5 linked regions of the Homo sapiens genome follow. The protein of the gene in region 1 purifies or fractionates together with the protein of each later gene. This does not show direct contact. Each region holds a gene or a part of one and is shown in the gene's direction. Other genes may lie near its edges.

Evidence for each region.
Region 2: the proteins of OR13C3 (region 1) and ALDH3A1 purify together in Homo sapiens (affinity purification with mass spectrometry; one large-scale study listed by BioGRID and IntAct). This does not show direct contact.
Region 3: the proteins of OR13C3 (region 1) and FLG purify together in Homo sapiens (affinity purification with mass spectrometry; one large-scale study listed by BioGRID and IntAct). This does not show direct contact.
Region 4: the proteins of OR13C3 (region 1) and MAP1A purify together in Homo sapiens (affinity purification with mass spectrometry; one large-scale study listed by BioGRID and IntAct). This does not show direct contact.
Region 5: the proteins of OR13C3 (region 1) and PUM2 purify together in Homo sapiens (affinity purification with mass spectrometry; one large-scale study listed by BioGRID and IntAct). This does not show direct contact.

Annotation. Positions count from the first base shown.
Region 1 is NC_000009.12:104,534,137-104,539,985, reverse strand, and holds OR13C3 (olfactory receptor 13C3), read left to right. Parts: upstream 1-3,129; 5' UTR 3,130-3,262; coding exon 3,263-4,216; 3' UTR 4,217-4,237; downstream 4,238-5,849. UniProt on the Homo sapiens protein: Odorant receptor.
Region 2 is NC_000017.11:19,740,710-19,747,015, reverse strand, and holds part of ALDH3A1 (aldehyde dehydrogenase, dimeric NADP-preferring), read left to right. Parts: intron 1-1,403; exon of another isoform or gene 1,404-1,881; 5' UTR 1,882-1,886; coding exon 1,887-2,048; exon of another isoform or gene 2,049-3,446; intron 3,447-3,552; coding exon 3,553-3,784; coding exon of another isoform or gene 3,785-4,385; coding exon 4,386-4,471; intron 4,472-4,803; coding exon 4,804-5,012; intron 5,013-5,805; coding exon 5,806-5,923; intron 5,924-6,306. UniProt on the Homo sapiens protein: ALDHs play a major role in the detoxification of alcohol-derived acetaldehyde. They are involved in the metabolism of corticosteroids, biogenic amines, neurotransmitters, and lipid peroxidation.
Region 3 is NC_000001.11:152,315,138-152,321,443, reverse strand, and holds part of FLG (filaggrin), read left to right. Parts: intron 1-5,966; 5' UTR 5,967-5,987; coding exon 5,988-6,125; intron 6,126-6,306.
Region 4 is NC_000015.10:43,515,189-43,522,010, forward strand, and holds the start of MAP1A (microtubule-associated protein 1A), read left to right. Parts: upstream 1-2,419; 5' UTR 2,420-2,512; intron 2,513-5,452; coding exon of another isoform or gene 5,453-5,535; intron 5,536-5,783; coding exon of another isoform or gene 5,784-5,924; intron 5,925-6,135; coding exon of another isoform or gene 6,136-6,285; coding exon 6,286-6,822. UniProt on the Homo sapiens protein: Structural protein involved in the filamentous cross-bridging between microtubules and other skeletal elements.
Region 5 is NC_000002.12:20,343,477-20,349,782, reverse strand, and holds part of PUM2 (pumilio homolog 2), read left to right. Parts: intron 1-6,306. UniProt on the Homo sapiens protein: Sequence-specific RNA-binding protein that acts as a post-transcriptional repressor by binding the 3'-UTR of mRNA targets.

The DNA of each region.
Region 1 (5,849 bases):
CAGCCCCTGAGTTAGACTTAGGTGTGGAAGGATGAGCAAAACAGACAAGCTCTTTCCCTAAGTCTCTTATCTCACAATATACAAGATAACCAATTTAAAGCGTCAGGAGCAGAAGACAGTGGATTTGAATTGTTTTGCCGTTCACTTCCTTTTGCATTTGTGACAGGGCTAATCAGAGTGCGCATGTCCCTTAGCCAGTGTTTCCTATGGCCATTTCTGTACCCCATTTGAGGAGTCAGAAGTAGTATAAATAATTGCTCCTTTCTCTGGGCACTGTTGAATGAGTACATTCAATTTGTTTTTGTGACCTCAGTTTTTCTGTGGTTCTCACTAACCATCCACTGCTTTTGACATTTGATTTCTATATAGATTTTAATGCCACTTGTCAGGCAGGATAGTAATATGAAGAGAGTGGACTTTGGACCTCTGCTTGTTATTAGACATGTGACCTTGGCACAAAATTTGGCACATAGGAAGCTACAATAAAAGTTGTCTAAATAAATGAAATGCAGAGATTTTCCTTCTTTTCCTTCCTTCCCTTCATTCCCTTCCTTCCCTTCCTTCCCTTCTTCCCTTCCTTCCCTTCCCTTCCCTCCCCTTTCCCTCCCTCCTTCCCTCCTTCCTTTACTCTCTTCCTTTCCTCCTTTTGCCCTCCCTTCCCTTTTACCCTTCCTCCCATCTTCCCTTCTTTCTTTCCTCCCTGCTTCGTTTCCCTCCTTCTCTCTCTTCTTAAAGCTGAATAATAAAAATTAACAATCTATTGTGGGCTCATTTTTTTTTGTCTTTAAGATTGAGATTGTATATTCTCTTCCTTGCCTTTCTCTTCAAAGTTTAAATATTTCTATTGTGTATCCTTAACTAAATTTTTCCTATAGTAAAGATTCTGTTGAGTTGGATTTCTGACTCCTAGTAATATCTGCTCTACACAAAACTTCCCAGTGACTATCATGTGACCAACAGTCACAGTGTGGGGAAGAGTGGATGTGCTAACATTCTCAAAGCTATTAGCCCATGCAAAACCTACATTTGTGATTTTGACCAAAATTAAATCTAGTAGTGATTATAGAAAGATCAATTATCATGCCTATTCTGTAATTAGTGACAACTCCGCTAATCTAAATGCTTTAATTCCCTGAGTTACATTTCTACTAAAAAATCTTGTAACACCATATTCTATGAGGTCAAATTTAGAGAACTGCTAAAGTCTAATGGGCGAGGTGCTTACCCCATGCTCTGTGCTTTCTAATGATAGACCTCTTTTCCACCAAAAGAAATGACACTTTTTCTGCCTGATTTTAGAGCCTTTCTATATGCACCTGTCAGGCTTTCTTTCTCAGATGTGTTTCCCACCACTCTTTCACAGAAACTCCCTTGTGCTGCCAGTCGGCTTACTCCTAACTTTGGTCCAACTTCTCACTTTTGAGATATCCCTTTTCTCTTTTAACCCTGTCTAATTCTTTTCCATACTCCCAGGTTCAGCTGAACACTGAAACTCCGGAGTTCTCCTTGGCCTAATTTATTTCTCATAAAATTCTTCCTTCTGGGAAAAACTGTAATTTTCATGTAAGCTATAGAAAGTGACTGTAAATTATTTTGATATGTTCTTTTCTTATATCCCTACCTAAATTGTGAACTTTGTAATGACAGGCACTTTAAAAATGCTGCTTTTTAAAAATATGTGTTTCAATAATATTTTTAAAGGGTATTTTAAAAAATGGTGTCAATCTGGAGTTTCCGTAAAACATCAAAGAATTATGCTCTTGACATTTTCAAGGTTCTTATTGCCAATCTACACAATAAGGCAAAAAAAACTGGCTTGAATTAGAAACATCTAGATAATTGGCCAACTTAGTATAGACTAAGCCTTGCTACTCAAGTGATTTTGGGACCAGTGGCATAAGCGTCACCTGGGCACCTGCAAGAAATGCAGAATCTCAGGACTGGCCTGAACACTAAAAGAGAATCTGAAGGTTTTTAGGTTTCCCAGATGTTTGCCGGGTGTGGTGGCTCATGCCTATAATCCCAGCATTTTGGGAGGCTGAGGTGGGCAGATCACAATGTCAAGAGATGGAGACCATCCTGGCCAATATAGTGAAACCCCGTCTCTACTAAAAATACAAAAGTTAGCTGGGCATGGTGGTGCACGCCTGTAGGTGGAGGTTGCAGTCAGCCCCGATCGTGCCACTGCACTCCAGCCTGGTGACAGAGTGAGACTCTGTCTCAAAAAAGAAAAAAAAATTCCTAGATGCTTTACGTGTATATGAAAATTAGTGAAGCCAAGAACTAGACTTTGTGTCGAAAATATTAGCTTTACATTACATTTTATTATTTACTACCTAGTTAATCTTGGCCAAGTTCCATATTTTATAGTTGAAAAATGGGGTTAATATAAAGAATATTATAATTTGTAAATGGTAAAGTGGTATACATACACATGTATACATATTTATATGAAATATTTAAACATTATTACTGTTTTTATTGGTTGATTTAAATGAGTAAATTATCAAGACAGACTCTTAAGCTACAGAGTAAAATATGTAAAGACACTATATAATGTTCTCCAAAGACTATCACATTCATGCGGAGCTGTTCTGGGCAATGGTCTTGTCATAGGAACAGTCATAACAAGATACTATGAGATCAACAACTAACTATGCCTTTAAACAATTGTCAAATTTCAGGGTATGTGATTCAATGTATTATTATTAAGTGTCTGTAAAATACACAATTAAACTAACTATAAGGTATTAGTATCAGGCCTAGAAAAAAATATAAACACACAAAAATGTCAAAGTTGCTGTGAAATTTTAAACACTTTATAAATTGCTGAATTAAAATTCCAGTCTTTGTTGAGTAGTCTTTTGCCCCCTTTACTGCTTGTTTGCTGGGGTTGATGAAATGAAGATGTTAAGCTTAGAGTTGTTGATTGGCCAGGGGTTTTAGAAACCTCAGCTCGGGAGAGTGTCCTCAACTCAGGAACATGTCCTCAACAGCAGGAAAGGTTCCGTCTGCATGTGTGTCTGATCGTGGGTAGATCTTCACATATTGGCGATGCGGTATAGGTGCTTCCATCATTCCCAATTTCATTGTATTCTAGTCACACACATTACTGAAGATAACTGGATGTCAGAACTTCAAGCAAGCACTCCTTCTAATATGTGTCAAAAGAATGATTGTTCAGTTAATTTGTACTGTTTGTTTCTTGGCAGTAAATACATTTCATGTTAGATCTTCTTTTGATTTCCTGAAAGCAGATGACATGGGTGAGATTAACCAGACACTTGTGTCAGAATTTCTTCTTCTGGGTCTTTCTGGATACCCAAAGATTGAGATTGTTTACTTTGCTCTCATTCTAGTTATGTACCTAGTGATTCTAATTGGCAATGGTGTTCTAATCATAGCCAGCATCTTTGATTCTCATTTTCACACACCAATGTACTTCTTCCTGGGCAACCTCTCTTTCCTGGATATCTGCTATACATCCTCCTCTGTTCCCTCAACATTGGTGAGCTTAATCTCAAAGAAAAGAAACATTTCCTTCTCTGGATGTGCAGTGCAGATGTTCTTTGGGTTTGCAATGGGGTCAACAGAATGTCTGCTTCTTGGCATGATGGCATTTGATCGTTATGTGGCCATCTGCAACCCACTGAGATACCCCATCATCCTGAGCAAGGTGGCGTATGTATTGATGGCTTCTGTGTCCTGGCTGTCCGGTGGAATAAATTCAGCTGTGCAAACATTACTTGCCATGAGACTGCCTTTCTGTGGGAATAATATTATCAATCATTTCGCATGTGAAATATTAGCTGTCCTCAAGCTGGCCTGTGCTGATATATCCCTCAATATTATCACCATGGTGATATCAAATATGGCCTTCCTGGTTCTTCCACTGATGGTCATTTTTTTCTCCTATATGTTCATCCTCTACACCATCTTGCAAATGAATTCAGCCACAGGAAGACGCAAGGCATTTTCCACGTGCTCAGCTCACCTGACTGTGGTGATCATATTTTACGGTACCATCTTCTTTATGTATGCGAAACCGAAGTCTCAAGACCTGATTGGGGAAGAAAAATTGCAAGCATTAGACAAGCTCATTTCTCTGTTTTATGGGGTAGTGACACCCATGCTGAATCCTATACTCTATAGCTTGAGAAATAAGGATGTAAAAGCTGCTGTAAAATATTTGCTGAACAAAAAACCAATTCACTAATGAAACCAGGACATGTAGGTCTTTGTTTAACAGTCACAAAGATGGACTCTTAGGTAAATCAGCCTGAACCTTTTTTGGAGAAACCATGGTTAGAGAGACAGATTTTTATCCTTTGCCTTTACTAGCCCTGCTCATCTAGAATCACTGATAACTATAGTTTGCTACAAACTCCAGCATGCCCTGATCCACGTTTCACAAACATAATTAATTCTCTTAGAATCTCATCCCTTGTGATGTCTGAAATGAGTGTTTCTGTGTAGAAACATAGTGGAAAACAATCACACTATAAGCTTTGGAAATAGAGAGCAATAGTACAAAATCTGCAGTTCCGTAAACTACCTAGGTGATATTGGATAGATTATTCTTTCTTTCTAAGACATAGTTACCTTACTTGTAATAAGGAAATAAAATAATAAAAAAATCCAGGTCCCAATATCATTTAATGTTTCAATAAGTTGGAGGAAGCACCTAACATAATACTGGCTTCACAGTGTCCAAGAATTTCAGAATTGAAGCTAAGACTCCATAGTGAGGACTAAAAGTTGCTATTTATCCCCTCTTTTACTCTCAGCTAATAATTACTAGAGCCAGATGTCTCACTGAAAGTCACCCCATTAAGGTAATATTTTCTAAAATTTTAAAATTCAATATTTTCTAAAATTCTAAAAAAAATAAAAAAGAATTAAAAAAAGAAAAATTGGCCACCTCCCAAATATATCATTCTAATGTTTCTCTTAGTAAGTAGGAATCATGTATTCATCATGTTTTTATTTTGATTTATTAGATCTACTATGAGCACTTGGGCCAAATTTTTTTTTAATGTCCAACACATGTTTTCACAGGATAAATTCTAAGGCATGAAATTAATAGGCCAGGTGGTATAAACTTTTAAAGTTCCTGGCTAACTTACCATTGGAAAGGTCGTATTACTACCCTAAATACCATTATATGTTTCCCCCAATATGTTTGCAGCTCTATTTAAATACATACGCATACACACATATATCTCCATTTATACATACACACATTTGTGTTTATATATATATAAGAATATTTTTTCTTTAAAACATTTTTTTGAGAATTTTCATTTTCAAATATTTAACAAAAGAATGAGAATAATGAAAGTCAATGTATAATTGCACAGCTTAAATAATTACACATGGTCAACCTTCTTTCATCATTATCCATACCCACTTATCTTCTTCCTTTACTTTAAAGCAAATTCTGGACATAATTACATCATGTTATATATTATGTAATTATGTCCAGGACATCTGTGTGTGTACATATTTAAATGACACAAATCCAACGATCCCCATTCACATTGTAGTCTATGAGAATGCACTTCCAGAACACAAGTTGTGATATGAATGATGCCTCCTCCAATTAAGAATAAGACAGTGCTGGTGAGGACTGTGAACCATGAAAAGGGCACATGAGTCACATAAAAGACGTTATTTCTTACTTCAGTGGGTTGTTGCCATAAGATAATTCAGGATGTATATTGACTGATTTTCTAAATTTCAAGAAAAGCCTGGACATCATAGTGAGACCATGTCTCTACAAAAAATTAAAAATTAAAAATTAATCAGGTATGATGATGCACGGCTATGGTCCCATTTACTTGGGAGGC
Region 2 (6,306 bases), on another chromosome or scaffold:
TGTGGGGCAGCACCTGACAGCTGATGGAGCAGGGAGGAGGGAGGCAGACTTTTTTCTGTGCCCCTTTGCTATATTTTACATTTTGTTTCATGAGCATGTAGTGCCTATCTTAAAACGCACCAAAATTTAAAAAATACAAGCTCATTGCAAAAAGTCAAACATTGCATAAGAGGAAAACAGATCATCAATAATTCCACCCCCATCAGTTGTCTCATCGTGTCGGGGGCTACCGTTCTAGTCCTTTCTTGCATGTTAGAGCGTGCACGCCCACACACACACGCACACGCGCGCACACACACGCACATGCACACACACGCACGCACACACACACGCACATGCACACACACGCACACACACACATGCACACACACGCACACGCACACACACACACGCACACACACACATGCACACGCCTGGTACATCTGTTGTTCTGTAACTTGTTTTCTGTTTTTCTTTCTTTCTTTCTTTCTTTTTCTTTTTTTAGATGGAGTCTCGCTGAAAGTAATTATATTACTTACCCGAGGCCTTCAAATACCGCTTCCACTGACAGCCTCTTGACTTCTAGCAAATCTCACTAACCTTGCCTTACCTCCTACCACTAATCTAATAGGAGAACTCTGTGATTATGGCTCCATTCTCCCGGTCAAAGTGCTGGAGTGCAATGGCCCAATCTCGGCCCACTGCAACCTCCTCCTCTCAGCTTGGTTCAAGCAATTCTCCTGCCTCAGCCTCCCAAGTAGCTGGGACTACAGGTGCCTGCCACCACTCCCAGATAATTTTTGTATTTTTAGTAGAGACAGGGTTTCACCATGTTGGCCAGGCTGGTTTTGAACTTCTGACCTCAGGTGACCCGCCCACCTCAGCCTCCCAAAGTGTTTGCTAGGATTATAGGCGTGAGCCACCGCGCCCGGCCTGTAACCTGTTTTCTTTCTTATCCCCAGTGCCTGAGACACCCCTGGTGCAGAGAGAGCCCCTACAAACATGCTGAATAGCCTGCTCCACCTAATCCCTAAATACTGCACAGTAAACCCTTACGTGGGTGTGACAGGAGTCATTTAAACTGTCTCCTTTCTTTCGGATCTTTGGGATGTTTACAATACTTCCCTGTTATAGAAAACAGTGATGACTTTCTTATTCGTGAATGTTTAGGAAAGGCTGTAGGACCTTTTCGTCACAGAGAAGTATGTTTGAAAAACTTTTGCCACATATTGCCAAATTGCCCCCAGCAGGGCCATCCCGATTTGCCACTATACTTTCGTGTATTGGTAGCAGGAATCGCCTCCACACCTCTTTGTGGAAATCTGCAGCTCTCTGAATCCTTGGCGGGCATGGGCGTGCGTCTCCCAGGTGTGGCACGCGTGGTTTACACACCAAGCCTGGTTCAGCTCTGCCAAGAAACCAGCGCTTTTTAGAACAATGGCTTAGCCAGGAGGGTGGTGCTGGGTTTTTCTTTATCGGCTTGGGTGTGGAATCGCGGACTGCGCCCCTCCAATCTGATCTGGAGAGTGGCTGACTGCGTGTGCAGAGCTCTGGGGGTGTTGGTCTGGGATTGTGCCATCAGCTTTGCAAGCAAGTAAGGGAGCGGAAAAGGCCGGGAAAGGCCCTGCCGCGAGCACGCTGCCAAGAGCCCCCAGCAGCAGTTCGGCTTAGGACTCGGGTTGCGGCGGGTGTCACCTTCTCAGGGGCTAGCAAGGCAGCCAGGGCCCAGGCGTCTGAGTGAGGGGCGGGAGAGGAGGCGAGGCAGAAAGTGGACCTTCCAGCGGAAAGGCCATTTTCCCCAAGGCCGAGCCCAGGGAAGTCCCTTCCTATAGAATTCAGGCAGGGTGGGAGGCAGGGCGCGCTCGTGCCCCTCAGCCAGCTGCAGGTGCTCTCTGTCCCCAGGCGCCATGAGCAAGATCAGCGAGGCCGTGAAGCGCGCCCGCGCCGCCTTCAGCTCGGGCAGGACCCGTCCGCTGCAGTTCCGGATCCAGCAGCTGGAGGCGCTGCAGCGCCTGATCCAGGAGCAGGAGCAGGAGCTGGTGGGCGCGCTGGCCGCAGACCTGCACAAGGTGCTCAGGCTGGGCGGCCGCCTTCTGCCAGTGTCGGGGCCATGCGATGGGGCGTGGGGGGAGGGGCTGGGGAGAGTGCGACCCAGAGAGGTTCAGGAAGGACTTGGGGCCACCTGGCCCCTCGGTCGCGGAGACTGGGCGCACCGCCCTCCCCTCCGCCGCGCCCCGCGCGCCCCCGCCGCCTCTTCCGCCCTCTGGCCTTTTCCTCCTGGCCCGGCCTCCGCGTCCCGCCCGCAGCGTCCCCCATTTCAACTTCCTGCTGCCCCGACACCCTGAACTTCTGGTCCTCCCCATTCCTCAGCCCCACGCAGGACCACTTGGTTCTCCACACCAGGAACCAGAGCAGCTTGGCACCCCGGAGGGCATGGGGGGCTCTCCCCTCCCTCCCAGTTCTCACAGGGGCTGTTCCGTCCCTCACCCTGAGCAAGACCAGACACCTCTGCATTCGCAGCCCCCTGCTGTCCCCACATGCTGCCTGGGGTCCAGCGCTCCGGAGCCCATCCTCCCACCGACTACCCTCTTTGCTCCTGCACTTTTATTTTTATTTTATTTTATTTATTTATTTGAGACAGAGTCTCGCTCTGTCGCCCAGGCTGGAGTGTAATGGCGCGATCTCGGCTCACTGCAACCTCCGCCTCCCGGGTTCAGGCAATTCTCCTGCCTCAGCCTCCCCAGTAGCTGGGACAACAGGCGTGTACCACCATGCCCGGCTAATTTTGTATTTTTAGTAGAGACAGGGTTTCGCCATGTTGGACAGGCTGGTCTTGAACTCCTGCCCTCAGGAGTTCCTCAGGAGGAGTTCTCGGCCTCTCAGAGTGCTGGGATTACAGGCATGAGCCACAGCGCCGGGCCTGCTACTGCACTTTTCAAGAAATGGCTCAGGACTTCTCATCTTAAACCAGAAACAACAAGGAAACCCATTCTGTTGACTTTACAGCTTCTGTGTTGCTCTTCACAGCCCAAGTTTATAAAAGAGACGCGTTTTCCGCCGTCTGCATCTCCTCTTCTCACCCCTGCTCCCCACAGGAGGCCCTGAGCGCCCAGCAGCCCTTGGTCCTGCATCCCCCTCCAGACAACTAAAGGGCCTGGCTCCCTCCACCCTGCCCGGATCCAGCTCCCAGTGCCCGAATCTATCCCCCCTCCCCGGATCCATCCCCCCCTCCCCGGATCCATTCCCACTGCCTGAATCTACTCTCCCCTGCCCGGCTCTATTCCCCCTACCTGGATCCATTCCGTTGCCCATGCCTGGTCCCTTCACCGGCTCTCTCCCCTGGGGCCGCAAACCTACCTGGGCCCCCCTCTGGCAGAAAGGGGTCCTCTCAGACCCACAGGTCCAACGGCTAATCCTGGCTCTGCTTCCCCTGGGAGCCTTCTGCGGCTGCCCCCACCCTGGGCTGGGTGAGTGACCCCCATCACCCTGGCAGCTGAGCAGTGGGGCTCCCCACTCGCCCCAGCTGCAGGCGGGCCCTGGCCCTGGAAGCTCACTCCGGCTCTGTCGCTGCAGAATGAATGGAACGCCTACTATGAGGAGGTGGTGTACGTCCTAGAGGAGATCGAGTACATGATCCAGAAGCTCCCTGAGTGGGCCGCGGATGAGCCCGTGGAGAAGACGCCCCAGACTCAGCAGGACGAGCTCTACATCCACTCGGAGCCACTGGGCGTGGTCCTCGTCATTGGCACCTGGAACTACCCCTTCAACCTCACCATCCAGCCCATGGTGGGCGCCATCGCTGCAGGTGCATGGCCCTGTGGGAAGGGAAGCTGGGGGAGCACCGTCCCCCAGCGTGGAGCCAAGCCAGGATGGGCTCAGGCCTGTGTTAAGAGTCCTGGGGTCAGATAAGGGTTTGCTGGGTCTGTCACAGGAGGCTGTGGGGACCAAGCTGTTTAGCCAGGCCTCTTGGTGCCTGAGGTCCAGTCAGGCTCAGGTGTCCACACCTGGTGATACAGAGAGGGCCTGCCTTCCCCCACCCCTGTTGGGGGGCTGGAGCTTCTGTCACCTAATATGCATCAGGGCTTCCTTCCTAGAATGGGCCAGCGCTGTTCTACCAACCGGGCCCCCAGAGCCTCTCTCCCCTTTCTGCTTTTCCTCCAACATCTCAGCAACTCAGAGGGCCAGGTGGTGCAGCTCTGGCCAGCGTGTGCCCGTGTGTGTCCCTCTGTCATGTGCCCGTGCGTGCTCCTGGGTGTGCCCCGTGACATGTGCTTGTTTGCTAACAACTCTTCCATCCACTGTCCCGAGGACACACAATGGAGGGGAGGCTTCAGGTGTGGTCCTTGGGAGGGCAGAGCCTCTGGTGAAGTACCCTGGGCATAGGCCTGGCTCGGTGTGCTCTGCAGGGAACTCAGTGGTCCTCAAGCCCTCGGAGCTGAGTGAGAACATGGCGAGCCTGCTGGCTACCATCATCCCCCAGTACCTGGACAAGGTGAGTTGCCCTCCAGGGCCTCGTAACTCCATGGCCTCATAACTGAGCTAGGGCCAGGTCTTTGGGGGGTGAGAAATAGTGAATTCTTGCAGCAAGGGGCCAAGCTACTGGTGGGGCTGAGGATTGTTCTTAGCAGCTGCCCTCTCTCATTGGGGTGAACAGAGCCCCTGGGCCAGGAAAGGCGGTCTACTGCCAGTTACTGCTACCCCCCGCCCAAGGTGGGGTGCTGAGCTTCGGGGCTGCTGGTCTTGGCCACTGCAACTCACCCACACTTGCAAGAGCGAGGAGGGGCTTGGTCTTTGCTGAGCCTCCCCTCTCTCCTTGCATGGAAGGATCTGTACCCAGTAATCAATGGGGGTGTCCCTGAGACCACGGAGCTGCTCAAGGAGAGGTTCGACCATATCCTGTACACGGGCAGCACGGGGGTGGGGAAGATCATCATGACGGCTGCTGCCAAGCACCTGACCCCTGTCACGCTGGAGCTGGGAGGGAAGAGTCCCTGCTACGTGGACAAGAACTGTGACCTGGACGTGGCCTGCCGGTGAGAGGCACGGGCCTGCTGGCTGCAGCAGTCCTTACTCTGCTTTCCAAGCACACATGACTGCACCTCATGCTGTGGGTCCACTCTGAGTAACACAGACACCCCCTGCCTCATGGAGCAGTGGTCCTTGCAGAAACTTACATGGGGGTAGGGGTGGGGACCACATGCACAGAAGACGTGTGGGGAGTCCCAGAAGGCTTCCTGGAGGGGGAGAGGTCTAGGCTGAGCTCTGTTTGCTGAGTGCGCATCACTGGGGAAGTGGTACTCCAAGCAGAGGCTGCAGAAAAAGCAGCTGTGGGACGTTCAGGACACAAGGAACTGTACTGGGTTCAGCCCTCTGATGGGGCAGGGCAATCTGAGTTCTGGAGAGCAGGCCCAGAGGGGAGAAGGGCCACCGCTGCTCGGGGTCTGGGGCAGAACCCGTATCTGCACCTCCTGACCCTAGCCAGGGCTCTGACCACCTCCATATCCCACATCTGTGGCCCCAGAGATGTAGGGGGGCCCGAGTAGCAGTGACACCTGGCTGTGCAGGACAAGGGCGTGATCAGGGAGCACGGAGGTTGCCCTCAACAGACGTCCTCTAGAAATTCCCCACCAGTCGCCGGTGAACATGATCAGGGCCATTGGGTCTGCTCGGTCCAGTGTCTAGAAGTGAGCAGACCGCTTGGGAGGACTCACTGGTGGCAAGGTCACAGCCGATGGCTTCTGCTGACCAGAGAGCTCAGGGGTCTGCAAAACGAGATGCAACTCCTGGGGAACCTTTTGGATTTAGTCCAGTCTGGGATTCTCACAGACGCATCGCCTGGGGGAAATTCATGAACAGTGGCCAGACCTGCGTGGCCCCTGACTACATCCTCTGTGACCCCTCGATCCAGAACCAAATTGTGGAGAAGCTCAAGAAGTCACTGAAAGTGAGTGTTGACCCCTTGGCAGGGTGGGATGAGAGGCTGTAAGGCACAAGGGGGGCCTGGCCCCTTAACCAACTTCTACAGATTTGGAAACACTGGATTTATTTTCTTCTAATATAAACATAATGCAAGCTAGGCATGGTGGCTCACACCGGTAATCCCAGCACTTTGGGAGGTAGAGAGTGGAGGATCACTTGAGGCCAGAAGTTTGAGACCAGCCTGGGTAACATAGCAAGATCCCATCTTTACAAAATATGTTTTTAAATTAGCCAAGCATGGTGGCATGGTGGTGCATGCCTGTTGTCTCAGCTACTTAGAAGGCTACGGCGAGGCTGGAGCATTGCTTGGGCCCAGGAGTTTGAGGCTGCAGTGAGCTATGATTGCAC
Region 3 (6,306 bases), on another chromosome or scaffold:
TTTCCTTGATTAATCTTGCAGGGGTTATCAGTTTTATTAGATTTTTCAAAGGCTGAATCTTGGCACTGTTGGTTCTCTAAATTTTCTTTCTCTTTTATTAATTTTAGTTATCTTTATTATTTCCTTCATTATACTTTCTTAGGGCTTAATTTGTTCTTTTTAAAACTTCTTGAAATATATGCTTAGGTAATTAATTTTTCAGTCTTTCATATACATATATATACACACACAACTGTATGCTGCTTATAAGATTCACACATAAAAAATGATAACAGTGATTGAAAATGAAAGGATGGGAAAAAGAGATATCATTCATATATATATGTATGTGTTTATATACATATATATGTGAGTGTATATATGTATATATGTGTGTGTGTATATATATATAGGCTATAAATATCTATTAGGCATGGAATTAATGTATTCCACAAGTTATGCTATTTCATATTTTTCTCATTTTCATTTAGTTCAAAATATTTTCTAATTTTGCATTGTAATTTATTCAATGACCCATTGATTATTTAGAAGTCATTAATTTTCAAACACTTAAAGATTTTTCTAGTTATCTTCCTATTATTTAATGCTTGCTTCATTCCACTGTGTTAGAGAACAAACTCTATGATTTCAACCCTTTAAAATTTATTGAAACTTGCTTTATGGCCCAGTATATGGTCAATTTCAAAAGAATGGATATTCTGCAGTTGTTAGGTGTAGTGTTCAATGTATGTTGATGTTTTATTAATAATTTTGTAGAAATATTCTACATTCTTACATATTTTTTACTTCTTCTATCAGTTGCTGAGAGAAGTGTATTTAAATACCCCACTATGATTGTAGATTGCCTGGTCCTCCTTATACTTCTGTCGATTTTTATTTATGTATTTTGAGGCTTCCTGGAGAATTGATCTTTTATTATTATAAAATTTCCTTCTAGCAATATTTTTTGCCTTAAAGTCTGCTTGACAGATATGAATATAATAATAACAGCTTTCTTTTAGTGTTTGAATGGTATCTCTTTCTTCCACCCTTTCATTTACAATCATTTTAATCACATTTTATGTGTGTCTCTTATAAGCAGAATACAGTTGGTTTTTTTTAATCCAGTCTGACAGCCTTGTCCCTTAATTAGCATATTTACTCTATTTATATTCAGAGTTATTATGGAACTATTTGGTTTACATCTCTACAATATTACTACTTGGTTTCTACTATCTCACCTGTTCTGTATTTCTTTTTCTATTCTTGACTTTTTTGGATTAAGTTAATATTTACCAGTTAATTATCTTTATACAAAAGCTTATTAATTATACACTCTTTTATTATTATCTGCATCCTTGCCCTAAAAATTATAGCATGCATCCTTGATTTGTTAGGGTATATTATTAAGAAAAAAATACTTTAACCCCTACCCAAATAATACAAGTATCCTACAATACTTAACTCCATTTTCTCACTGCCTTATCTGGGATTGTTATGTATTTTAATTCTATTTATCTTAAATCCTGAAAGATTACTATTATTATTTTATGCAATCAATATCTAGCTATATTTTTCCACACATATGCTCTTTCCATTGTTCTTATTCTTTCTTGCTCCTCTGTGCTTCCAACTAGAATTATCCTTTAATATTTCCTTTACAGTAGGTCTCTGGTGATTAGCTCTGTTTTTCTTTGCTTGAAAATATCTTTACATGTTTTCTTTTTGGTGGATATTTTCACTGTTAACATATAACTTATTTTGCTTCAGAAAGATGAATATAACATTTCATCGTCTTTTAGCTTCCATTGTTTCTTTTGAAAAGACAAGTATCAATCTTATTGTCGCTCCTTTGAAGGTAATACAAGTGTTTCTCTGTCTGCTCTTAGGATTTCCTCATTGCCTCAAATGTTCAGCAGTTTTATTATTATATGTCTTGCTTTGGTTTTCTTTTATATCTCCTGCTTGGAGTTTATAATATCGTTTTGAACCTGTACCTTGATATCTTTCATCAGTTTTAGAAAATTTTGTCTTTTAATTCCCCAAATACTATATTTCCCTCTAAATCTGAATGTAAGCCCCAATAAATTGTCACAATCTTGATAGCTCTGTGATACCTTCAAACACACACACACACACACACACACACACACACATTTTCTAGTTGTATTCAGAGTTAGTCTGAAACTAATAAACAATTGCACAAAGCAATCTTTAAAAATCAAACCATATTAGATCACTCTCTTACCAAAAAATATCATCTAGTCTCATCACACCTAAAATAAAATGCACAAATGTCACCTTATTTAGAAGATCATTATCTGACCCGTCTGTATCTCTGACTTTATGTTGTATTACTCCTGCTTTGTCCACAATTTTCTAACTGAGTTGGTCTTTTTCTATATCTCTAACATGACAAGCTGATTTTCATCTTGGAATCTTTGCACTGTTCCTTGTGCTAAAATTCTCTAATTAACAAGGCTACTTCCTTCTTATTTTTCCATTTTAAGTTCAAATGTCCCCTCTACCACAAAACCTCCTTTCCTTAAAGTACCCCCAAATATTCTGTATAATAGCACTCTTATTTTAGTTATGTACATATCACTTATCAATATCTAATTGTTGAATTAATTTATTGTTTGTTTATTGTCTTCACAAAAGTAGGCAGGCACCTCATCTATCTTGTTCACTACTATATCTCCAAAGCATGAAACAGTGCCTAACCCTTTAGTAGCTGTTCAATACTTGTTAAATAAATGAAGGAATGAATGAATGAATGTAAGCTCTGAGAAAAGGTTATGCCTAGAGGTATCAATTTTGAAGTCATCAGATAGATGGTATCTGAAGTGATGGGATCCAATGACATTGCCTCAGAAAGGAGTGTAGATTTTTTTTAAAAAGAAGGTCTAAGACACAGCCACAGATATTTCCAACCTTTTGAGATTGAGTAGAAGAGAGGTTAGTAAAGAATACTGAGAGACAACAGCATTCAATGGGTAAGAGGAATATCAGAAGAATATGGTGTCATGAGATCCAAGAAAAAAAGACTCCATTAAGAAAGGAATGGTTAATTCTATTTCACATACCAAGAGATTAAGTAAGATGATGATGATGAGGTAATGATGGAGAAATGACACTGTATTCAACAACTTGGAGATCACAGATGATTTGACACAAAGCAGTTTCAGTAGAGTTTGGTGATAGAAAATTGAGAGAAGCAGGTTAAAAAGAAAGTGGGTGGTAAACATTTTAAGAGAGAAAGCAGAGAAAACTTCTCCAAGACTCCTGTGAAATGAAGCAGTTAATTAGGCTAGTAAGATGTTAGGAGAAATGTTGGGGGAGGGTGGAATAATGGTTCGAGGGAAGGGTTTTAAGATGGAAGATACTCCAGCATGTTTCTGTGGTGATAAAAATAAACTACTAGAGAAGGAAACAGAGTGAAGTAGGGAAAACTGACTAATTTTAGGGATATTTTGAAAGTAGGATCAATAAAACATGTTGATGGAATAGATATTGGATGTAAGAAAAGGAGAATCAACTAATTTTCAGGTTTACGACTTGAGCCATCAGGAAGACAGGAATAACTGATGAGGATAACGGGTGTGCGACATTTTTAGGGTAAAGCAGTTGAAAATCAAGACTTCTGTTTTGAACATAATAGATTTAAGATCTCTACAAGACTCAAGTAGAAATACTGGATAGGCATTTAGACATACACATCTCAAGTTTAGGGGACAGTCAGTGACTGGGGGTATAAACTTGTGAGTTGCCAACTTATTTAAAAAGTTATATAGAACTAGATGAGATGACCCGAGGGAGTATAATAAAGAAAAGAAGCTAAGGAGTGAATCATAGGGCATAGCAACATTAGGAGCTGAACGAGGAGGCTAAGAAAAAAGTGGCCATTGAGGTTGGAGGAGAAACTTGAGAGTGCCAGGTCTCTGAAGAAGGATGAAGCCAGTTGCATCAAATGCTGCTGATATGTCAAGTAATATGTAAAATAAAAATGGATATGTGGATTTGGAAATATGAAGGATATTTTTTACTTGGTGAGAGTTTTAATACATTTTTTAGAAAGAAAAATACCTTGAGTAAAGGAAAACAAGAATGAGGAAGTAAAGACAGAATGTATAGGCATATCTTTTGAGGAATTTTGCTATAAAAGGGAACAGATAAATCAGATGGTACCTAAAGGCAGATGTGAGATTGAGGGTGGGGTGGAGATGGGAAGGTAAGTGTTAGATAGATATTTCAGCATGAATATATATTGAAGGGAATGATCCAGTAGACAAAGAAGAATTAATGATGCATATGAGAAAGTAGGCAACTGCAAAAGCAAAGTGTTTGGGTAGGCAAGAGAGAGTGGGGCTCAGTGCCAAAGTAAAGGACAGGAGGAGCACAGACTGTTTATTACCCTAAATAAAGTGAAGGCAAGGTATATGGATAGAAATGTAGTAGGTTGGGAGATCAGATATTAGGAGAATGAGGAAACTCTTTTCCAATGGCTTCCAAGTTCTCAGGAATCAAAATCAAGGACATCAGAGATAAAGGAAAGAAGAAGTTGTTGAAGCTTTGGCCAGTGGGTATAAGAAAAAGTAGGACAAGTGGATGTATCCAAGGGGCATTTGGGGAGATTAAACATAATGTCTAACCAAGGTAAAAAGGGAAGTGAGTACATAAAGCAGTAAATAGAGAGGTTAAAGAATTATTGACATCAGCGTACAAGAGAAGGTCAAAGAGTGAGATCCTTCAGAAAGAGATTTTGCATATGTTGCAAGTAACGATAAGTTCAGAGAATACAATATCATCATAAATAAGACTGGCTGAAAATAATCATAAACTTTAAAATGCATTTGTAAGAAGCATATACCTGTAATTTTTTAAATTCAATCTTTACAATCTATATTTTAACTGGCAAGATATGGTCTATTTTACATGTATTGTAATTAGTAATAATAAAATTATTTGTAATTCTATTAATTTATTTTATGCTTTCTGTTTACCCTTCTTTTTCTATGCTTCTTATTTTCTTCTTTCCTGGCTTCTGTTGAATTATTAAAGTTTCTTAATTCCCCTTTTTCATCTCTAATGGTTTAGAAATTATAAATTCTATTATTTTAGTAAATACCCATAAACTTACCCAAATACATATATCACTTAACCACAGCAAAATTCATTAATATCTAATTCCTCTTACCAAACAAACCAAGGTCCAAAAATGTTTTAGTTGTGACTGCTACAGTAATCTCCTTCACATTGTTTTCTACAGTATTTTAGTTTCACCTGGTTTTGTAAGTCCTAATAAAGTTATAATTCTTTATATAATACACACTTAGATTTATTGACATGCTTACTAATTTCTTCACCAATGAGATAAACTGAACATTCCTTAAATGGCAAAATGAAACCCAGTCAGAAAAACCTTTCTCTTTAAATATTGAAGAGCTATTAAATCCATCCTATACAATGAAATATTATAAACTTCATGAAATGTTTAAAAAACAAATAAAAAATTGAATGAACTTTCATTGAGTATCTTGTCATATGGCTAACTGGCTTTCAGAGAATTGTGTCTTAGCAAATTAATCATTTATTAAGTTAGCTTTTGGGGAAGTAATTTTCAGTAAATTTGTATAAGTAAATTTTACTGCTTAAAACCAGTCAGCCTTTCTAAATTCTTGTTGCTAGCAATGGCAAGATCAGCAAGAGGGATGATCTTACCTAGAGCACACTGAGGTCTGTGAGACTACTAAGTCCAGCTGTAAGTGGGCACAAGGCCAAAAAATGGGCAATTTTATTTAAGTCAGGAAAACTCTATTCATTTGTTTTATGTAGATGGTAGAGAAAAGTTTCTCATGTCCATCTTCCATTCTTAAAGATGGATTACTTAGAGGAAAATGTAGGTTTAAAATGTGGAAAATGATTGTAATAATATAACCTAGAAAAAAAGATGTATAAAAAAGTGCATTTTCATTTCTTCTTTCTAGGTTCACATTTATTGCCAAAAGATGTCTACTCTCCTGGAAAACATCTTTGCCATAATTAATCTTTTCAAGCAATATTCAAAAAAAGATAAAAACACTGACACATTGAGTAAAAAAGAGCTGAAGGAACTTCTGGAAAAGGAATTTCGGCAAATCCTGAAGGTAAGAGTCTCTGACAAGACCAAAGATAGAGCATTTGTTTTTCTCATCAATAATCTAAGCAAGGGTTATTTTGAGCTCTTTGTGAACTATTTCTCTTAAAATAGGAAAAGAGTTAATCTTGTCTCAAAAGAGATAGATTTTATTTTCTTCCCCTATACCTGGATGTATATTATAAACATAA
Region 4 (6,822 bases), on another chromosome or scaffold:
ACAGAGCTAGACTCCATCTCAATAAATAAATAAATAAAAATACAGGCTGAGGGACCAGTCTGGAGGCCTTCGGTCTGACTCTCCATTTCCACTGACGGACTTAGGAAGTGATAGCTCTATTACTTCTACCAATACAACAGTTACCCTGAATTAATACAGCAGCTCATTAACCCCTGGAACCGGGGTCTGCATTGCTGTCTGAAATGGGAAAGCAAGGACATGAATAGGACTTCAAATCTCATACTGCAGGCATCTTTAGTTCTGGGTTTACCTGGGAGCTAAGAGTACTCCAGAGTTGATCTGGTCTGAGATCCTGATTTATGATTTCCTTGATCACCTAGATGACCTCTCAGAAATCTTCCACAAAAGGGAGAAAGACTTCCAGTGGCATTTGTACATTGCAGATTTGGAAGTCTAGGAATGAAGAAGCTTTTTTTTCATCTTTTATACAATTCAAACCTCACAGCATTATCGGAGGATGGTACTAATATTATACTCATTTCATAGTTTATGAAGTAGGCTCTGAGAGAGGTTAAGTCTCTTGTTTAGCAGCATGATTAGTAAAATGGTGGATCAAGTCTCAAATCCAGGGTTTCATATCTTACTTTGTAGCTCAGCTCAAGCCTCTCTTTCTTCTTTGGCATCTCACCATTTCATTGCAGCAGAGCCTAGGAATACAGCAGGTGGAGAGTTGGTTGTGGTGGGTAGCTGTTCAGAGGGTGAAGGCTGAAGGAAAACTCCACTGTGAGTTGGCACCATGCCCAGGGTGTGGCCCTTGGGGGTGGCAGCTGAGAATATGGGTGGGCTCTGTATTGGTCTGGGAAATGTTATTTTGTTCGTAAACTAAATGTCTACTTAAGTTTCCCTCCTAACACACTCCAGAAAGCCCTAGAAAGCAGGGAGGAGATAGAAGGCTTGAGGTGGGAGGAAATAAGAACGATGAAGTTGCAGAAGAGGGGTATTTCCCTTTTGTGATGCTCAGAACTCAGCCTGGTTTTCCCTGTGTATCTCTGCAGATGGCCGCTTCTACCCAAACGGGGTTGTTGCCATTGTCGCAGATTTGCATCCCCGGATCTAAGCAAGGATTGCTCCCCTTTTGTCCCCTCAACCCCCAAGAGTACTAGTGACTCAGCTCCTCCTCTCCTCTGGCTGCAATTAAGGGGGGATGGGGGATGCTGAGAGCACAGACTATTTTGGCTTCTCTGACCTTCAAAAGTAACTCTTGGCAGCCTGGGGCAAGGGTGGGGCTAGTGTTTGGGTGTGAGTGGGTGGCTGTGATTGTGAGGAAGGCCTTAGGAGCTGGCCAAACTGGGGAGGGTGGATGGGAAGAGGGCAGGGAAGGACTATGTAAGAGCATGAGCATCCTCGGGTTGGAAGGAAGTGCTACCACTCTCCAGATTCTTCCTTTGAGTCCTAGAGCGCTTTACTAAATCTGAGATGGAGGTAGAGACTAAGGGAAACAGGATCAACATTAGAAAGATCCAAATAATATAATATAGAAACAGCAAAGAGACAAGGAGAGAGCAAGAACCCAATCACCCTACAAAGTCATTATAGGGTTTTTTTAATCTAAAGAGTACTTCTGTTACATTTAATAATTGGCCTACAACCTTGCTTGGGCCGGAGGCCCTGGTGATCCTTCTTGGTCCTTGTTAACTCCTTCACTGTAAGGCAGAAAGCTCCCTGTCCCTTCAGGGACTTGTCTCTTCATATCCAATGACTCAAGAATCCCAAGAATCAGTGCCTGTGTGGTTACTGTGTTATGCTGCATTCCCATGAAACTTCATGTAGCTCTCAGGGTCCCTGTGCCCCACCCCAACAGGCTAGGGACCATGTGTCCACTCCGGAATTTCAAACTACCCTCTAACCCTAAAATAAGACTTATTTCTGCCCTCCTTGGTTTCTGTAGTGCTGAGGTTCAGAAGAAGGCAGCACATCTCTGCATCCCCAACCTTTGTCTTAAGCAGTTCCCCACACCTACCCCATGCTTTTGGGCCCCCAGCCTTTGTCTCCTGCTCCTCCAGGGACTGAAGGTCACTCCCTGGATCCATCTGAGGAGAGAGGCAGCAGATGGTTTCTAAGAGAAGGGGGAGAGCCCACGCAGCCCATGCCTCCTATAGCCTCGCTCTGTGCCCTAGCATGGGGCTTTGGTCTTTTGGCTGATGCCAAAAGAATATTTCCTAACTAAGCAGGGTTGGGAGAGAAAGGTCCTATGGGCCATAGGACATTGCAGAGGCTCCTTGAGCTGCTAGACAATCCCTCAGCCCCACAGAGCCAAGCAAAAGCACTGGAGCTCAGACGTCGTGAAGGCAAAGAAACAGTTAAGTCTCCAGTGCCTCGTCACGGACCAGCCCCTCTTCCCCGCCCTGGCGCCGCCCTCCTCATCAAGCACCCCCCTCCCCCCCCCACCGCCCGCCCCACTCCCACCCTAAGTGCTGCAGACTCTTCCCTGAAGCTGCCGGCTGAGGCCGGAGCTGCCGCCTCCATGAGAGGCTTCCTCCTACACCCCAGGGTAAGAACCGAACCAAAGGGCTTGGCATGTGGGGGTACACTGTGATAGGGAGGTGGGATGGGGGTCATGGAAAGGGTGCTGGTACCTAATCTGGCACATCTAGAACTAGCCCAGTGGCAGTAGGCAGGATGGGGAAATGGAGAGAGAAGATGAACGTTACTGGCTGTGGGCCCAGCCTGGACCCAGAACCAGAGGCCACCAGGGGCTGTGACAGTCCACCTCTCCAGCTGGGCGGGGATGGGAGAAATCAGCCTGGGACAGCAGCAGAGGGTGGTGCCACTGGCTCTGCCTGACAGCCCAGGATGCTGGAGGAGTTTGGGGGCTATGTTTCTGGTCAGAGGCAGAAGAATCTGAGAGAAAGGGGGATGTTATGGGAATGTGCCTAATAGGAGGGCCCCTGGGTGTCAGCTGCTGGATTGCTCAGCTGCTCCTATGCTGGGGGTGAGCAGGGCAGTGAGTTTTTGCCAAGTAAGGGAAGGTGGGGGACACTATGGAAAAGAAGGGAGGAAAGGGTCACTAAGACGTGGCACGCGCCTCCTTACAGACCAACCGGTTTGCAGTGGGCTCCCCCACCCTATTCCCTGCGGCTAGCTTTAGAATGGGACTCTAAACCCCCCTTTCTGGCCCTGCCGAGGCCACTCTGGAGACGGAGAACTCCCTCCCCAGCGGCTGCCCTGCATTTCCAGTCGTGTCAACCCCACAGGTTCCCAGTCTCAGCCCTACCCCCACCTCATCTCTGCTTCTCTTCCCAAGATGGGGGCTCTTGAACAGAGGAGCCAGTTTCTTCTCTCTCTCTGCATCCCCCCATCCCCACCCCCCATGCAGAAGCAGCCAAGAAAATGACTTGTCATGCTGGGGTGGGGGGTGGGGGCGGAGCTGGAGCCGGAGCTCAGCGCGCACACTCACACACTGCGGCAAACTGCAGCTGCCCAAACGGTCCCCCTCCCCTTCTGCCTCACTGCGGAGACACCTGCCCTCCTGCCTGCTCAGCCTCTGCACCGCAGCCCACCCCCCCCCGCAACTCCAGCACTGGCTGAGCACTGTGTGTCCCTGCCTCACAAGATGGTCCTCTCTAAAGAAAAAGGAAAAAACGAGTCAGTTCCCTTCAGTGAGAGAGCCAGGGGAGCAGAAGAAACGGCTTTCTCCCAGGCCTGAAAAAGAGAGGCACAGGATATAAACCATGTAATTTCAAGTCAGAACCACTCCCAGGGATAGAGTGAGGAACAGGACCTTATGCCAGGACAGGAACTGGGATCATAGAAGTCTTGTGGTGATAAATGGGGACCGTGAGGAATGGTTGGGGGCAGGGAGGGGTAGATAGAAAGCAAATCAGTGTGTGCTATAGATATTTGTCTTTCTGACCCTCCTACCTCAAATTTATGACCTTATTTGTGTGGAGGGAGCTCTTGTCTTTCTAAATCTGAACGACTTAAGGCTGGCAGCTTCCCGAACCTTGATATCCCTCACCTGCCCCAAGCCCTGCCCTTGCCTACATCTGAGGTGGCTCTTGTCCTCTGAATTTATCTCAAATGTTCCCTCAATTCTCAAGTAAATAGAAGGGAACCCTTGAATTCCCCTTTGGCCCAACCCACGCTGTATGGGGTTTGGTCTTCTGACACCATCGTTCATTTCCCCCACAGCTGCATCTGCAGCCCTGTGCTGCCAGATCTGCCTGATCCTGGCACCATGGCTCTGCCTCTTAACAAAGGCCCTGGCCCCAGGCTTCTCTTGTCCAAGCACCAGAAAGAAGAGAGAGCTGGGTCACAGAAGAGGGTCTAAGGGACAAATTATGGACCCTCCCACCAGTATCCTCCAGACAGCCCACTGCCATCTGTTGGATGCTCTGTGAGGTTAATGCCACTATGTACTGCAATTGGAAAGGGGATTTGGCAAGGAAGGGCGGGTGCAGGGGATGGCAGCATTCTTCTTCAGCATCTTCTGTCTCATTTGCCACTTTCTTTCTTTGCTGAATTGTTTGGTGTTTCATGTGAGGCTGGAGAAGGGAAATAGGGGATTTGGGGATGCCTTATCTTTCTCCATGGCCTGGGGAACACCCTGAATCTCTCCTTCCTTATTAATGTGTTTCTTGTTCAAGAACCTTTCACTCCCCATGCCCGTGGTAGAGGCCCCTAGGAGCGGGGCAAAGATGAGAGAAGAAACTGTTCACAATGAATAGGTTGTGGGGTAGTGAATCTGGCCTCTCTGAAACTTTGGGACATGAAGATCAGGTTGGAGAGGGTGTTGTGAAAACTTCCGAGCAGGAACAATATGATTGTGTGCATGTGTATTAGTGCGGGCTTGGCCTCTGAGGAACCAGAGGACAGAAAATGAAGTTATAGTCCTATGTCCATTCTTTGAATCATAAAACCCCAAAAATTTAGATAGCACAGGCTTCTCCGGGTCTTCTGGAACAGGAATTCTGGCCTTGGATGGCAAGAAGGGTGGGGAGTCTGTACCACACAGAAGCTCCTATTTCCTTATTTCTAGACACTCTGCGGGCAGGAAAGCCCAGGGCAGAGGCAAGCCAGGAAGGAGAAAGGGAAGTGAGGGTCATCATCCCAGGGGCCCTCTCTCCAGCTGAGCCCCCCATCCCCAGGCAGCACCAGGAGCTTAGTGCTCGAGAAGGACAAAAGCTTCTTGTCAATAGGGCAGTCTGAGGCCATAGTTCCAGGCAGAGGGATGGGGGCACAGGCAGCAGAGGGTGTGGTAGATGAAGGGAAGGAGAGGACAGCCAGTGTGGGAGAGGGGAGGTGGAAACCCTCTAAGGGAAGGGCTGGATGAGCCAGTTCCTAGACCTTACTCAGCAGTATCCAAGGTGGCAGGGCCTAAGGATACCTTCTCTTTCGTCTAAGCCCCATTTCCTGATAGCACATTCTTTCCTCTCCTGCACCACAATTTCTATACCTATTCTCAATATAAATTCCTACATCTCTCCCTCAGGCCAGAGGACCCTTTGCCACCAGAGTGAGATCCTAGAGACCATCATCCTGGTAAATCCCAGTGCAGACAGCATCAGCTCTGAGGTAAGGCCAGGGCCTGTGCCTTGCCAAACAGGCCTGGTGCAAGTGCTATACCCACCCTTGCCAGTGCTACCACTATTAGGCCAAGAATTCCTCTCTCTGCCATCTAAGCTGACGTATTGTCTCCAGCCCACTCTGGAGGTGTTATGAGGGACATAAGTTGGGAGCATGTTCTTGAGGTACTGAGGGGCCATTCATTGCCTTTCCCTGGATTTCCTATATCTGTGACCACTCCCCTTCTTCCATTCCAGGTTCATCATCTTCTTAGCAGCTCATCAGCTTATAAACTACTAATCTTGAGTGGGCAAAGTTTAGAGCCTGGGGGAGACCTCATCCTACAGAGTGGCACCTACTCATATGAAAACTTTGCCCAGGTCCTTCACAACCCCGAGGTAAGTTCCATGCCAGAGTGTCTGGGAGAAAGGGTAGCACTAGAGCTGTGGGAGGGATCTAAGGGAAAGTCTCATATTGCATGACCATGGGGGGCCCTGGCAGAAAGGTAAGAGTCCACCTTGGAAAGAGGTGAAGATTAGGGTACTGAATCTAAGTCAGACCAAAACAACTCTAGTGACCTGATCAGGTTTCTATCTCCTATTCTTCTAGATTTCCCAATTGCTCAGCAATAGAGACCCTGGGATACAGGCCTTCCTTACCGTGTCCTGCTTAGGGGAAGGTGATTGGAGCCACCTGGGATTATCCAGTTCCCAAGAGACCCTGCACCTCCGGCTAAACCCTGAGCCCACTCTGCCCACCATGGACGGCGTGGCTGAGTTCTCCGAGTATGTCTCTGAGACTGTGGACGTGCCATCCCCATTTGACCTACTAGAGCCCCCCACCTCAGGGGGCTTCCTCAAGCTCTCCAAGCCTTGTTGCTACATCTTCCCAGGTGGTCGTGGGGACTCTGCCCTCTTTGCTGTCAATGGTTTCAACATCCTGGTGGATGGTGGCTCTGATCGCAAGTCCTGTTTTTGGAAGCTGGTACGGCACTTGGACCGCATTGACTCGGTGCTACTCACACACATTGGGGCAGACAACCTGCCAGGCATCAATGGACTACTGCAGCGCAAAGTGGCAGAGCTAGAGGAGGAGCAGTCCCAGGGCTCTAGCAGTTACAGCGACTGGGTGAAGAACCTTATCTCTCCTGAGCTTGGAGTTGTCTTTTTCAACGTGCCTGAGAAGCTGCGGCTTCCTGATGCCTCCCGGAAAGCCAAGCGTAGCATTGAGGAGGCCTGCCTCACTCTGCAGCACTTAAACCGCCTGGGCATCCAGGCTGAGCCTCTATATCGTGTG
Region 5 (6,306 bases), on another chromosome or scaffold:
CTTTGAGATTTTTACTTGTTGAGAAAACGGGGCAGATGTTTTGGTGAAGGAAAACATGAGAAAAATGCTTGTAAACGGTGAAGAGAAATGTAATACCTGTAAAGGTACTGTATGTCAAGAAAACAATTTTAATAAAGGGAGTTACCGAAGGATTTTAAAAGCTTGTTTAATGGTTAGATTTCGTGTTTAACAGGTGACTCTTCACCATGTGACCTGGAGTATTGGAAGATGACTTAAGGAATCCTGTAAATAAAAAAAAAAAAACAAAAATGAGTATTTTCAACTTGTTTCTCTTCCTAGCCTCCTTTTAAACAATGATTTACTTCATTTGCTCAATCATTATGAATAAAAATGATGGCATTTTCCGTGCTGCAAGAATTTCTTTAAAATTCCGATTTTTGGTGAAATTGCATTGTGTAGAATTTTCTTGGTGTGCATGAGGGCAGTTTTTGTATGCAGAAAAGGTTTACGATAATCTTAAAAATAAAATTTTATTTCAGAAACCTGGTTCTTGAGGATTTAAGTCCAGTTTTTAAATTTTGTTTACAGGTCTAGCTATTTTGAGTTATAATTGCCAGTAACTTACGCATTTTCCAGCAATTTAAGCTGTGTTTAACACATGCTTTCCTTAATTTGAGTCCAAAGTTCTCTTAGGTGTTTCAGCATTTAGCAAGATTTCAACTTTTTAAAAGAGCCTAAATTAATTACTGACATTTACTTTGCTCTTACAAAGCTGTCACTTTAGAATAAATTCTCAGGCATTACAAATACTGTATATAAATTACCAAATAATACTTGGATTTTGTTTCTCTCAAGCATTCCATACTTGTTTATGAATCTTTTTTTCTTGTTTGAGACAGGGTCTGGTTCTGTCGCCCAGACTGCAGTGCAGGTGGTGAGATCTGGGCTCACTGCAGCCTCCGCGTCCCGGGCTGCAACTGTTCTTCCACCTGAGCCTTCCGAGTAACTGTAGCTGGGGGTACAGGCGCACGCCACCACGCCCGGCTAATTTTTGCATTTTTTGTAGAGACAGGGTCTCACTGTGTTTCCTGGGCTGAACTCCGATCTCAAGCGATCCTCCCGCCTCGCCCTCCCAGAGTGCCGGGATTACAGGCGTGAGCCACCACACCCGGCTTGTTTATAAACCTTTCTGGTGTGGAAAGATAATTTGCCTTCCGGAGTAGGTACTTATCTTAGTTAACAAAAGTAATTATGACCAGAGATTTGGGCCAGGTGTGAAATCCACAGCCAATTTTCTCAGTGACCAAGCTGTCTCCTTTTTATAGACCCTAACATGATCTGCATAGTTTTAAGTGGAGGTTGATTCCTGTCTCCTAAACTCAAGTTCTACATACGTCCTAACTTAAATACCTTGTTGGGTTTCCAGGATATGGAAATACTTGTATTTTTTCATATTCTTAAAATTTACAGATATTTAAAATATCCGAATATTTGAGTCTCACATGGCTTTGTCTACATGGCTGCAATCACAGCTTGAGACCATTTTACTAACAGGTGTGATTAAGATAAAAATTACACTTATAGCCAGGTAAATTGGTCTGTGGCATATTAAGATTTCTTGCTTTTTTTCTTTATTATTATTATTATTATTATTAATTTTTAATATAGGTGAGGTCTTGCTGTGTTGCCCAGGCTGGTCTCAAACTCCTGGGCTCAAGCAGTTCTCCCGCCTTGGCCTCCCAAAATGTTGGTATTAAAAGCATGAGCCCCGGTGCCAGACCCTTGCTGTTTTTAGGAAATGCATTAAAATAGTCTGACTTGTTCGTTTTGTCCTGCCTCCTCACTTCGCTTTGATGAGTTTGTAAGAGGGAACGCTGATGAAATATGGCAGAGCCCCTTCCTCGCTTTCTCTCTGGGAGTCTTCTCCCTGCAGAAAGCACTTAATTTGCCCTGCTTTTTCATGTGACTACCAAAGTTAGACTCCCCATTTCCAGAGGACAGTAGTTGTCCAGTGCTACTTGTGACTGGGTTAGAATAATTATGGAGTGTGTTTGGAAGCCCACTTGGCCTAGGTCTAAATTATGCCTCCACTGTGGTTTTATCAGTAGTAAAGGAAATCTTTGGATTAACACAAGTCCAACTACTGTGTCTTTCAGTCAGTTCGGAATTCTGTTGTGGAAAAAGGTTTCCTCAAACCCTATCATTTAGGAGCTAATATTTTAATAGTGATTTTTATATTTGGCAATATATATAGACAGGAGACAGTTTTTATTTAAAACTTAATTGCTTTTGTAGTTGAAAAAGTGGAAGTTTTCTATTTTCAAGCTTTTCCAGTGAGTGAAACGCTGTATAGAATTATTAGGTAGGTGCGTGATAAATGCTTTTTCTTTGAGTTTCATGTAGCATTATGTTTAGAGACATGTTAGTGTTTTTTTTCCTTAGTGACTTTTTCTTCAAATAACTCGAGAGTTATCTTTTTAAATGAAAAATCAAGACACGCCTAATTAAACACAAATATTAAAAGTTTTATTTGACCTTTGGCTGGTTCCTTTTTATGGTCTTAAGTGCTTTAGAGAATTTTTAAACAGATTGTTTATTTAAGCTGTTGGCAAAAGCATAGTTTCATTAGTAAGTTCCATTCTGCAAGTTTAGCTACTGGATCCCAACCATTTTCAGGTTGCGTATTGCATATTGTTGATTTTCACATCTTACTCTCTCACTGTTCTCTTGTGGAGGAATAAAAGATTTTAGAATAGAGTACTGGGAAATATCAAAATGTACACACCTTGTATGCATATCACTGTAGCTGGCAAGTGCAAAAAAAGAAGTAGCATGAAGTGTAAAAGGAGAAGGGAGGTAATTGAAGTGTTAGATGGTTTGATTGACTGCAAATGGGACAGGAAAAAAAAGGTAGTCATCACCTATTTGGAGCTAAATATGTTGGGACCACAGAAGCCCCCTAAAATGTTTCCTGGAAGGGACTTGGTACAATTGGCTATGAAATTGTACTCAAAACCACTTAGTCAGTACTGCCCAGGGAAATGGAACCTGTAGCTGGCTGCCAACACACATACAATGTGGTCATGGCGGGGCGGTAGGGAAGGATTATTTACATTTTTTTAGTTCTGGGGAAAAATACACTAATGGAGGAAACCTGGTTTGAGGACAGCTCTTTGATCTATCTTATTGTAGTAGCCATCTTATGACAAGAGTAAGAAGTTCTGGATCTCAAAGTGGTGATCCCTGACTTTAGGCAGTTTCTGAAAAACTTAAGATCAGTGAGAGAAAGATGCAATTGGTCTTATTCATTCAGACATGAAATAAGGCAAATGAGTGTTAGAGGGAGAGTGCCCCTAAGTATAGGTCTTTATTAGGCAGTCAAATGAAGCAAACTGTAGGAAGAAAAAAATGTGGATTGTATTGTATGATTTTTATAAATACCAAAAATGTATACAGATTGGAACTACTTGTATCTTCCATTTTCTTGACCATGTCATTTTTAAGTTAGTTTATTAAGAACATCTCCATAGTAGCTTATCGGTAGTTTTAGCATGATTACATGCAAAAACATTCAGTTATCTATGATAAAACTTGAATCTTTAAAACCAATTCAACATGAACAGAATTATGTTTTGAAGTTGAGAGGATAGTGGCTCCAGGTTTTGCCTATAGGTGTTTTCTTGGACCACCTTTCAATGGAAGTGTAATTTATTACTTTTTTTCCAAAGGAGAGTCTTAGGTGCCCTCGTCTTAATATCTAAATTATGTGCATCCTACACTAGCAAGAATAGGAGTGCTCTACGCTCTTGCTAAAGGTAAATTGTTTGCCAGTTCTTTCAGAATCGTGGTTGAGAAAATATTCATGGAGTATGGACATTCAGTCCATTTGTAGTCTGAATATTAAAATTGTGTCTTTTCATCACGCTAAAATACCTGCACAAGTTTTTTGGAGACAGAGTTTCGCTCTTGTTGCCCAGGCTGGAGTACAATGGCGTGATCTCGGCTCACTGCAACCTCCGCCTCCCAGGTTCAACCGATTCTCCTGCCTCAGCCTCCCAAGAAGCTGGGATTACAGGCGCCCACCACCATGCCCGGCTAATTTTTGTATTTTTGGAAGAGATGGGGTTTCACTGTTGGCCAGGCTGGTCTTGAACTCCTGACCTCAAGTGATCCACCTGCTTCATCCTCCCAAAATGCTGGGATTACAGGCGTGAGCCACTGTGCCTCGCCCCACACATTTTTTTTTTGAGCGTTGCAGATGTATCGTGCCACACTGTCCTTAGATGCTGGTGATACGGTGATATGTGGTCCTTGTTTTTAAGACCTTTATAGGAAAGTGGAGAGAAGATTAAACTTGTGATTACAGTGCAGCATGCTAGCCTGCCACTGAGGTGGTATTATAAAAGTGCTGTGGTGTGGGCACGTGGCCCATGCCTGTAATCTCAACACTTTGGGAGACTGAGGCGGGACGATCACTTGAGTCCAGGAATTCAAGACCAGCCTGGCCAGCATAGGGAGACCTTGTCTCTAAAAAAATTAAAAAATTAGTCTGGCATGGTGGCACGCACTTACAGTCCAAGCTATTTGGGAGGCTGAGGTGGGAATGAGGTGGGAAGGTCACTTGAATCCAGGAGACTGAGGCTGCAGTGAGTTGTGATCGTGCCGCTGCACTCCAGACTGGGCGACAGAGGGAGGCCCTGTCTCCCCGGCCCCGCCGCAAAAAAAAAAAAAAGAAAAAAGTGCTGTGGACACATGTAGGTAGAGACTGCAGGGACAGGAAAAGCTTTCCACAAGAGGTAAAGCGGAATCTTCTTTTCTTTTTTTTTTTTTTTTTTTTTTGAGACAGAGTCTCCCTCCGTTGCTCTGGCTGGAGTGCAGTGGCACTATCACAACTCACTGCAAGCTCCGCCTCCCGGGTTCACGCCCTTCTCCTGCCTCAGCCTCCTGAGTAGCTGGGACTACAGGCGCCCGCCACGAAGCCCTGCTATTTTTTTTGTATTTTTAGTAGAGACGGGGTTTCACCATGTTAGCCAGGATGGTCTCCATCTCCTGACCTCGTGATCCGCCGGCCTCAGCCTCCCAAAGTGCTGGGATTACAGGTGTGAGCCACTGTGCCCAGCTGCGGAATCTTAAAATGTTATAGAAGTTAATTTAGTCCCGAGATGGGTGAGGTGGCATTCAGCCAGAGGGATTAATAGCCGTAGTAATCCTGATAGGGTAGAATGACAAGAGTTTAAGGTGCAGTTATAGGGAGGAGGGTGACAAAAGAGAGATAGGAGAGATAGGTAGAAGCCCACCAGATTGAAGTCCTTTATCTAATATGGACAGTCCAGGATTATAATTTAGGAAGATATAGACAATCATGGTGTCCTTGAAAGCCTTAGAGAATTACTGTGTAGTTAGTTTTCCTGGATTATATTAGGAGTTAGGTATTTGACTTTTCCTTGAGGAACTGACTGTAAGAAAGACTATGAGGCTGGGCGCCTAACGCTTTGGGAGGCCGTGGCAGGTGGACTGCTTGAGCTCAGGCATTTGAGACCAGCCTGGGCAACGTGGTGAAACCCCATCTCAATAAGAAATGCAAAAATTAGCTGGGCATGGTGGCTCGCGTCTGTAGTCCCAGCTACCTGGGAGGCTGAGGCGCGAGGATCTCTTGATCCCAAGAGGTAGAGATTGCAGTGAGCCAAGATCGAGCCACTGCACTGCAGCATGGGCAACAGAGTGAGGCCCTGTCTCAAAAAATAAAATAAAGTAAAATAAAATAAAGTAAAATGATACTATGAAACCTTGTATCTGTTAATGGTAATGTTGAAGATATTTTCTATTACAACTCTGTTGCCTCAATAATGCTCCATCTAAGAAATTGCTTTTTTTTTCTCTGATACTGGGATGAGGGCGGGTGTCTCATCGTGTTGCTGGGGCTGGAGTGCAGTGGTGCAGTCACTGCTCACTGCAGCCTCAACTGCCCAGTCTCAAGCAGTTCTCTGACTTCAGCCTCCTGAGGAGCTGGCATTACAGGCGCACAACATCATACCCAACTAGTTATTTTGTTATTATTTGTAGAGACAAGGTCTCACTATGTTGCCTTGGCTAGTCTCGAATTTGTTGCCCCATGTGGTCTCGAATTCCTGGACTAAAGCAATCCTCCTGTCTTGGCCTCCTAAAGTGCTGGGATTATAGGTCCAAGCCACCATGCCCAACAGAAATTTCTTTTAAAGCTTAGTGTTAGGAATAAGGTTGCATCCAAGGGTTTGGTATGATTTCTTTCTCTGGCTAATGAGAATTGTACATACCTACTGTTTGTACAATTACTAGCACAACTGGTTAGCTTTAAACTTACTAGTT